2 linked regions of the Homo sapiens genome follow. The protein of the gene in region 2 interacts with the protein of the main gene of each other region in a pairwise test. Each region holds a gene or a part of one and is shown on either strand. Other genes may lie near its edges.

What was found.
Region 1: the proteins of RNF170 (region 2) and PSMA6 interact in binary tests that used the Homo sapiens proteins (3 or more experiments, as listed by UniProt).

Annotation. Positions count from the first base shown.
Region 1 is NC_000014.9:35,302,382-35,305,881, reverse strand, and holds part of PSMA6 (proteasome subunit alpha type-6), read right to left. Parts: intron 1-3,500. UniProt on the Homo sapiens protein: Component of the 20S core proteasome complex involved in the proteolytic degradation of most intracellular proteins. This complex plays numerous essential roles within the cell by associating with different regulatory particles.
Region 2 is NC_000008.11:42,857,733-42,863,331, forward strand, and holds part of RNF170 (E3 ubiquitin-protein ligase RNF170), read right to left. Parts: intron 4,124-5,599; coding exon 4,013-4,123; intron 1-4,012. UniProt on the Homo sapiens protein: E3 ubiquitin-protein ligase that plays an essential role in stimulus-induced inositol 1,4,5-trisphosphate receptor type 1 (ITPR1) ubiquitination and degradation via the endoplasmic reticulum-associated degradation (ERAD) pathway.

The sequences.
Region 1 (3,500 bases), on a different chromosome or scaffold from region 2:
CAAACTCTGGCTCAAGTGATCCTCCCACCTTAGGATTACAGGCATGAGCCACTGTTCCTGGCCTGGGCACATATTTTGTAATCAGGGGAAAAGCAACAAAAATCAATACATGCTCATGGTAGAAAATATGAAAACACAGAAGATAACTTTTAAATAATTATTCATAATCCCAATCATTATTTACATTTTGACATATAACAGATTATTTCAAAATTCTGTCTTCGAGTGTCACTCTGGGCACTGAGTCTGAGCCAAGGCCTCATCTGTTCAAAAAGCCACAGGTGATGACGACCAGCTAAGAAAGCTACTGCCTATCAGGCTAAAGAATCTCTTTTAATAGAAACTGTAATAAATCATCAAATATTTCTAAATGGCTAACTATTTAAGAGAGAACAAAAGAACAGAGCAAAAATGATTCTAGAAAAATCACCTTAAAGGAAATCCTCAGCTGGGTGCAGTGGCTCACATCTGTAATCCTAGCAATTTGGGAAGCCAAGGTGGGAGGACTGCTTGAGCCCCGGAGTCCCAGGCCAGCCTGGGCAACATGGCAAGACCCTGTCTCTACAAAAAAATGTTAGCTAGGCATGGTGGTACACCTGTGGTCCCAGTTCCTTGGGAGGCTGAGGCAAGAGGATCACTTGAGCCCAGGAGGTCGAGGCTGCAGTGAGCCGTGCTCACACCACCGTACTCCAGCCTGGGCAACAGAGCAAGACCCCATTTCAAAAAAAAAAAAAAGAAACAAAAGAAAAGAAATCTTCAAATATGGCTTGGATTTAACTGGTTTTATCATTATTATCATTATTGAGCAAGAGACAGCATCTTGCTCTGTCACCCAGGCTGAGTGCAGTGGCACAATCATAGCTCACCACAGCCTCAAACTTCTGATTCAGACCCTCCCACTTCAGTCTCCTGAGCAGCTGAGACTACAGGTGGGTATCACCATGCCTAATTTAAAACAATTTTTTAGAGATGGGGTCTCACTACATTGCTCAGGCTGGTCTCAAACTCTTGGCCTCAAATGATCCTCTTGCCTCGGCTTCTGGAGTAGCTGGGATTACAGCAGGTATGAGCCATAACCCCCAATTTAATTGGTTAATTATAATAGCAAAATTTTACCATCCCATTACACTACAAATAACTTTTTTTTTTTTTTTTGAGATGGAGTTTCACTCTGTCGCCCAGGTTGGAGTGCAGTGGTGCAATCTTGGCTTACTGCAACCCCTGCCTCCTGGGTTGGAGCAATTCTGCCTGAGCCTCCCGAGTAGCTGGGATTACAGGTGTGCACAACCACGCCCAGCTAATTTTTGTATTTTTAGTAGAGACGAGGTTTCGCCATGTTGGCCAGGCTGGTCTTGAACTCCTGACCTCAGGTAGTACACCCACCTCGGCCTCCCAGATGCTGGGATTACAGGTGTGAGCGACCGCGCTCAGCCTACACTACAAATAACTTCTAAAATGTAGCTGGTGCCTCGCTATTTGTGGGGATTGGTTCTAGGACCTCCCATGGATTCCAAAATCCACAGAAACTCAAGTCTCTGATATAAAATGGCACAGTATTTGCACATCGCCTATGTATATCCTCCTGTATACTTGAAATTATCCCTAGCTTGGCCAGGCGTGGTGGCTGACACCTGTAATCCCAGCACTTTGGGAGGCAGAGACAGGCAGATCACCTGAAGTCAGGAGTTCAAGACCATCCTGGCCGACATGGTGAAACCGCATCTCTATTAAAAATACAAAAATTAGCCAGACATGGTGGCAGGTGCCTGTAATCCCAGCTACTCAGGAGGCTGAGGCAGGAAAATCGCTGGAACCTGGGAGGTGGAGGTTGCAGTGAGCTGAGATTGCACCACTACACTCCAGCCTGGGCTACAGAGCGAGACTCCGTCTAAAAAAAAAAGAAAGAAATTATCTCTAGCTTACACTACACGAGCTAATACAATGAGTGAGACTCCGTTTAAAAAAAAAAAAAGAAAGAAATTATCTCTAGCTTACACTACACTAGCTAATACAATGTAAATGCTAAATAGTTGTTATACTACATTGTTTAGCGAATAATGACAAGAAAAAAATCTGTACATGTTCAGTACAGGAGCAATTTTTTCCCTGAATATTTATGATCTGCAGCTGGTTGAATCCATGGATGATGAACCCATGAATATGGGTTGAATATGGAGGACTAGCTGTACAACTTTCAAAGTGCTTCTTGATTCTGATCCTGATATGGCTAATAAAGCTTCTATCAGATCAGCCCTCCACAAATAAAAAGTACTAACTCTAAACAAAACAACAACTACCTAAAGACACCACAAAGTCAGATTCTAGAGGGGAAGTCAACAGTTGGGAGAAAGGAATGGCATGAGTTGAGTTTCCCATTTTTGTGGCTCATAATCTGAGAGCAGTAAAGGCTGAACTCCCACAGAAAACTCAGTCTTTTTGGCCTGAAGAACTAGAGAACAGTTTGGGGTAACAATAGCTGCCAGAAAACAAGGGAGAGAAACCAGAGCACTAGAGAGTGAGAGTCCCAACTTCTATATATAAACACTGCCCAAATCTCTAGCAGATTCCATAACAACACACACAAGGCAGACTCCAAGCGGCCTAGTTAAGGATAAAAGAAACCGAGTGAGATTTAAGATGCCACCCAAGAGACAGACTTTGTAGCTTGAGAATAACCAAATTAACTGCCTATTAGAACAAAACAAGTCAATACTCTTTGGAGAAATATAACAGAATCCACAGTCTTCATAAAATAACATTCATAAATGTCCAGGATACAATCCGGAACTCTCAATATACCAAAAAACAAATCAAGTCAAACTAAAAAACCAAAACCAAAACCAAACAACAAAAACCAGGAATATTGTGTTTAATTCTCAAAAAGAACAATCCTGAGACGACCCAGATGTTGCTGTATTAGCAAAGAATTAAAAACAACCATTATAACTATGCTCAATGACATGATGGAAAATGTTCTCAAAATGAAAAATGATAGGAAATCTCAGCAAAGAAAAAATGAAAGAAGCAAAAGGAAATTGTAGAACTGAAAAATATAATACGTAAAATTTAAAAATTCACCAAATGGACGTAACTGTAGAATGGAGATGAGAAAGGAAAGAGTGAGTGAATATGAAAATGTATCAAATGATCCAATCTTAAAAAGGCAGAAAAAATAGTTGAAAAAAACAACGAATCTGTGGGTCTACATCAAAATGTGTAAGATATGTACAACTGGAGTCCTATATGGAGAGCAAAGAATCGGAAAACAAAATCTGAAGAAATAATGGCTAAAAATGTTAAAAATATGGCAAAAGACAAAAAAATTTCAGATTAAAGAACCTCAGAAAACTCCAAGCAAAATGAAAACAGAAAATCACATATAGATTCATTATGGTCCAATGTCTGAAAACCAAAAATAGAAAAAATTTTGAAAACAGAGAAAAACAAATGAAAAACATAAAGAAACTATGACATAATAAGTGTGTGTTGTTTAAACACCA
Region 2 (5,599 bases):
ATGAAGGAAAAATTCTAAAGGCTGGATGCAGTGGCTCACACTGGTAATCCCAGCACTTTGGGAGGCCAAGGTGAGCAGATCGCTTGAAGCCAAGAGTTTTGAGATCAGCCTGGAAAGCAGGGTGAAACCCCGTCTCTACTAAAAATACAAAAATTAGCTGGGCATGGTGGCACACACCTGTAATCCCAGCTAGTCAGGTGGCTGAAATATGAGAACTGTTTGAACCCAGGAGACAGAGGTTGCAGTGAGCCGAGATCGCGCCATTGCATTCTGGCCTGGGCGACAGAGCGAGACTCTGTCTCAAAAAGAAAAGAAATGAAAAGAAAAATGTTAAATGACTTTATTAAAGTTTAGTGGTAGCTCTTAAATTTGAAACAGGTTGCATTTTTAAAGAACCATCCTACTGATGTCACCGGAGGATATGTAAAAAAAAAATTGCTGGGTCAAAATTGCAGAAGAGGCTCCCAAATAATTATGGAGGACAACATGATTGGATTAAGTTTTTTTTTTTCCTGCTCAATGAAAAATGGGTAAATCTACCCATTATCATCCATAACAGTTGAAATCTATGCCCTGAAATGTACACGACCTCACAGAACAAGGAACAATGGAGCATGAGCACATGTCTGTTTAACACTGAAGCATCTGAATAGCTTAATATATTCGGCTGGGAGCAGCAGTATCAATTCTTATCTTAACAGTAATTCATTTATTCAACACACATTAAGGCACCAAATTTGGCACTGTTGGAAACTCGGCAGTGGTAAATAAATAAAAATGGTCCTTACCCTTATGAAGCTTTTAGTTTACTGAGAGAAAGATAATGAACAAGAATTGAGTGCTGTCTATGATAAACGCCATGAAGGAAAGGTACAGAGGGCGCCACAGAGCAGGGAAAACTTCTCCAAGGAGGGTCTACTTAAGATAGTTGTCATTTAAAGACTGGGAAATCACCATAAGAGCAGAAGGACAAGCATTCCATGCAGAGGAAGTGTCAGGTGTGACAGCCTTAAGGTGGAAGGAGTTTGTGTGTGTGCTGAGAGCATAGAGCAGGGTGGCTGCAGGGTGGTGATTGAGGCGGTTAACAGAAATTTGGAGAGGGAGGGAGGACCAGATCATGTGGCGCCCTGTAAGCCACAGTAAGGAGTTGGAACATTCAAAGACATTGGGCCACAAGTGGTGGCTCATGCCTGTAATCCCACCACTTTGGGAGGCCGAGGTGGGAGGACCACTTGAGCCCAGGAGTTTGAGAACAGCCTGGCCAACATGGCGAAACCCCATCTCTACAAAAAATATAAAAATTAGCCGGGTTGTGGTGGCATGCACCTGTAGTCCCATCTACTTGGGAGGCTGAGGTGGGAGGAAGGCTTGAGCCCAGGAGGCAAACGTTGCAGCGAGCCAAGATTGCACCACCGCACTCGAGCCTGTCTCAAAACAAACAAACAAAATAGAAGTTTTCAAACACAAGAGCATCATGGTCTCATTTATGTCTAGAAAACATGTATCAGGCTGCTGTGGCAGGGAAAAAAGTAGAAGTGAGGAGGCCACTGTGGTTGCCGTGAGCAGAGATGACAGGGCTGGACCAGCACAATGTCTACAGTGATTGAAAGAAGTGGACACAGGCTGGGCACGGTGGCTCACACCTGTAATCCCAGCACTTTGGCAGTCTGAGGGGGTGGATTGCTTGAGCCCAGGAGTTCAAGGCCAGCCTGGGCAGCATGGCAAAACCCAGTCTCTATAAAAAATTAGCCGGGTGTGGTGATGCACCCCTGTGGTCCCAGCTACTTGGGAGGCTGAGGCGGCAGGATGGCCTGAGCTTGGAAGGTTGAGGCTGCAGTGAGCCGTGATCACACCACTGCACTCCAGCCTGGGAAAGAGTGAGAATCTGTCTCAAACAACAACAACAACACAGCCAAGACATTTTTGTTCTTTTTGAGACAAGGTCTCACTCGATCACCCAGGCTGGAGTGCAGTGATGTGATCCTGGCTCATTGCAACCTCTGCCTCCCGGGCTCAAGCAGTCCTCCCACCTCAGCCTCCCAAGTAGCTGAAACTACAGGTGCACACCACCGTGCCTGACTAATTTTTGTATTTTTTGGTAGAGACAAAGTCTTGCTAAGTTGCCCAGGCTGGTCTCAAACTCCTGAGCTCAAGTGATCTGCCTGCCTCAGTCTCCCAAAGTGCCAGGATTACAGGCATGAGCCACTGTGCCCAGCCAGCAAGAATATGTTGATGCAGTAAAAATAATAGGACACCCCAAAAATAGAAAGAAAAGGTAGGATTACTTATAGACCAGATGAGAGGAATGAAGAAGAGGAGGAAATCAAAACTGAGAAAAGAACAGACTATGTCAAGGAGGGAATCAGCTCAATACTCCACGTGTTAAGTTAGGGATGTCTGTGGAGCACCCACGCTGAAATGGAAGCGAAGCAGTTGGATCTACAGAGTCTGGAGCTCAGAGGAGAGGTCTGGGCTGTCCATATAAATTTGGATTTAGTACATTCTAGTTTTTGAAGTACTTATTCAGTTTTACATTTCTAAGAATGTGTTAGATTTTGATAAAACAAGAATGAGTCAGTAAAATGTGCTAGTTTTTGATTTATCAAATACTTCTAGGGTAAGGGGAAGAAAGGTTATCTGTACAGTGTTCTGCTTTTAAATAGCTAAGATGACATATAAACATATCCCTCCAAACTTTTTTTTTTCTGAGACGGGAGTCTCACTCTGTTGCCCAGGCTGGAGTGCAGTGGCGTGATCTCAGCTCACTGCAACCTCTGCCTCCCGGGTTCAAGTGATTCTCCTGCCTCAGCCTTCCAAGTAGCTGGGACTACAGGCACAAACCACCATACCCAGCTAATTTTTGTATTTTTAGTAGAGACAGGGTTTCACCATGTTGATCAGGCTGGTCTCAAACTCCCGAACTCAAATGATCTGCCCACCTCAGCCTCCCAAAGTGCTGGGATTACAGGTGTGAGCCACTGTGCCCGGCCTAAACCTGGAATTTTTTGGAGTTTCACTCTCGTCGCCCAGGCTGGAGTGCAGTGGCGTGATATCGGCTCACTGCAACCTCTGTCTGCCGGGTACAAGTGATTCTCCAGCCTCAGTCTCCCGAGTAGCTAGGATTACAGGTGCCTGCCACCACACTCAGCTAATTTTTGTATTTTTAGTAGAGACAGGGTTTCACCGTGTTGGCCAGGCTGGTCTCGAACTGCTGACCTCAGGTGATCCACCCGCCTCGGCCTCCCAAAGTGCTGGGATTACAGGCGTGAGCCACCGCCCCCAGCCAACCTGGAATTTTTTTAAGGGAACATTTCAAACAGGGCTAGGGCAAATAGAATAAACCACAACTGTGAAACTTAAAGTTTTCAGTTGTAACTTTTCTCAAAAGACAAATGGTGTTTTAGTATCACAAAGAAGTAAATAATTTTCTATTTCCCTCTAATTTTTTCTATTGCTTTTCTGCTAGTTTCTCTTTCATAAAAACTTTTATAATGCTGTTTGTTTTTTAAGAAAGAAAATTGTAGTCCTTGGGAAAGGTGTAATGTAGTGATTGGCAGCAATGAAGGTAAAAACTTGACCCAACACATATAATGAGATTTTTTTTTTTCTTTTTCTTTTCTTGTTTTTTGAGGAAGGGTCTCACTGCCACCCAGGTGGGAGTGCAATAGTGCGATCATGGCTCACTATAGCCTCAACCTCCTGGGCTCAGGTGATCCTCCCATTTCAGCCTCCCAAGAAGCAGGGACTACAGGCATGTGCCAACACTCTTGTCCAATTTTTTGGTGTTTTTTCTAGAGATGGGGTTTCATCATGTTTCCAAGGCTGGTCTCAAACTCCTGGGCTCAAGTGATCCACCTGCCTTGGCCTCCCAAAGTGCTAGGATTATAGGCGTTAGCTACTGTGCCTGGCCAAGATTTCTCATAGTCAAAGAATACTTGTTGGTAAACCTCACTTTACAAAAGAGAAGAAATGTGTCTTCCTCTAACTTTGAACATGCTTTAGCATTACTTACAGATCTGGGTTGCCCTGAGAATCTCCGGTTATAATCATTAATATCCTGATGCAATCTCAGAACATCCTGAGACTGATCATCTTCACCAAATACTGTTAGGAGTAAGGTTACCTGTATATTACAGAAAAAAAAATTATTTCAACTTTCTGCATCATTATGTTTTTTTCATTTTGTGTTATTATTCAATAGAATGATAAAGGCTTCTATATTTATATTTCACTCATTTTTAAATAAAGGCAACCTGGGGGAGGGGAGTAAGTAACTGCTTTGCAATAAAATCCAATGCAACATAGAATTTGAACTCCTATAAAATAGACACCATATCCAACTACTGGCCTAATATTTTCCTGTCCACACCAGGGGTAAATTCCTTAGTTCTCTATTTGGGCTAACAGATATTTGAAGATAAAAGAAGGATGAGGAAACATTCAGGAGGAAAGTGACATAAAATATATAACTGTCACTTTAAGACAGAAAAATTATGGTTTTCTTTTTCAGTATTAAAATAATGATTGGTTATTCTTACTGGTATTTGAAAGATCTTTGAATGCTACCAACCATAATATAAAGATTATGTTATTGCAGGGACCAGCTCTCAAACACCAATTCCTACTATAATAAAAAAAAGAAATTTTTGATATTGTCATATAACATAATACATTTAACCCTGCTTCCTTCATGGTTGTGGTAACAAGGATGTACAAATGTCCCAGGACCATACTGGGGTAATCTGACGGTGACAGTACCTTGAAAAATAAATACACTTTAGGACGTAGCACCCTTATAGAAAATGGTCACTAATGATTGTATGATGACATAAAAACGGGAAGGAGTGGTGGCCGATTTAGTTTTAAATCATTTAGTTGTTGTTTTGTCCTTCCTCAGTTCAGCTGTAAAACCAAGGCTTCCCACTGTTTAGATGCTTTCCAAACAGCTAAAAGAAGGCGTGACTAAGCACAGAAGGTGGTGAGAACAGCAGGTGCAGCCATCACTTCCTTCACAAATTTGTTAATAAAAATGCATTCTTTCAATACACATTAATGGAACACCTATGGCGGGCCAGGCACTCTGCTTAGTGCTAGGTATGCCAGAAAAATGAAGTCAAAAGCCTGCTCCAGGGTGACTACAACACCCACAAGGAAAGGGGAGGAAGACCTGGCCGACAGCCTTACATGGTCCTGGGGCAGGTGCAAGAATGCTGCTGTGAGAGCGAGGATCTCTTCTGCCTGGGGTGGTCAGAAAGCCTGATACTGAGCCAAACCTGGAAATGGTGGTAGGACTGTGGCTGGTGTGCACGCATTCAAGGGGAGAAGTGGTGAATGTGTTCCAGTCAGAGGCGGCAGCCTGTGTATTGCTATTTCCATGACCATTTACTGAAGGGGCTACTGAAAACAGGAGGTAGAACAAGCATTTGCCATCTGTCTTGCCTCCAGGATGAATTACTCTTATCTTAGGGAACCAAGACCTATTATATTAAGACAACTTTATCTCGACCTTCTGAGCCTCTAGTCAATTTATGGATGGTACACAGGATACCACTGGCTACTGTACACATGTCCTATGAAAAGCCATGGGCAGAACCAAGAA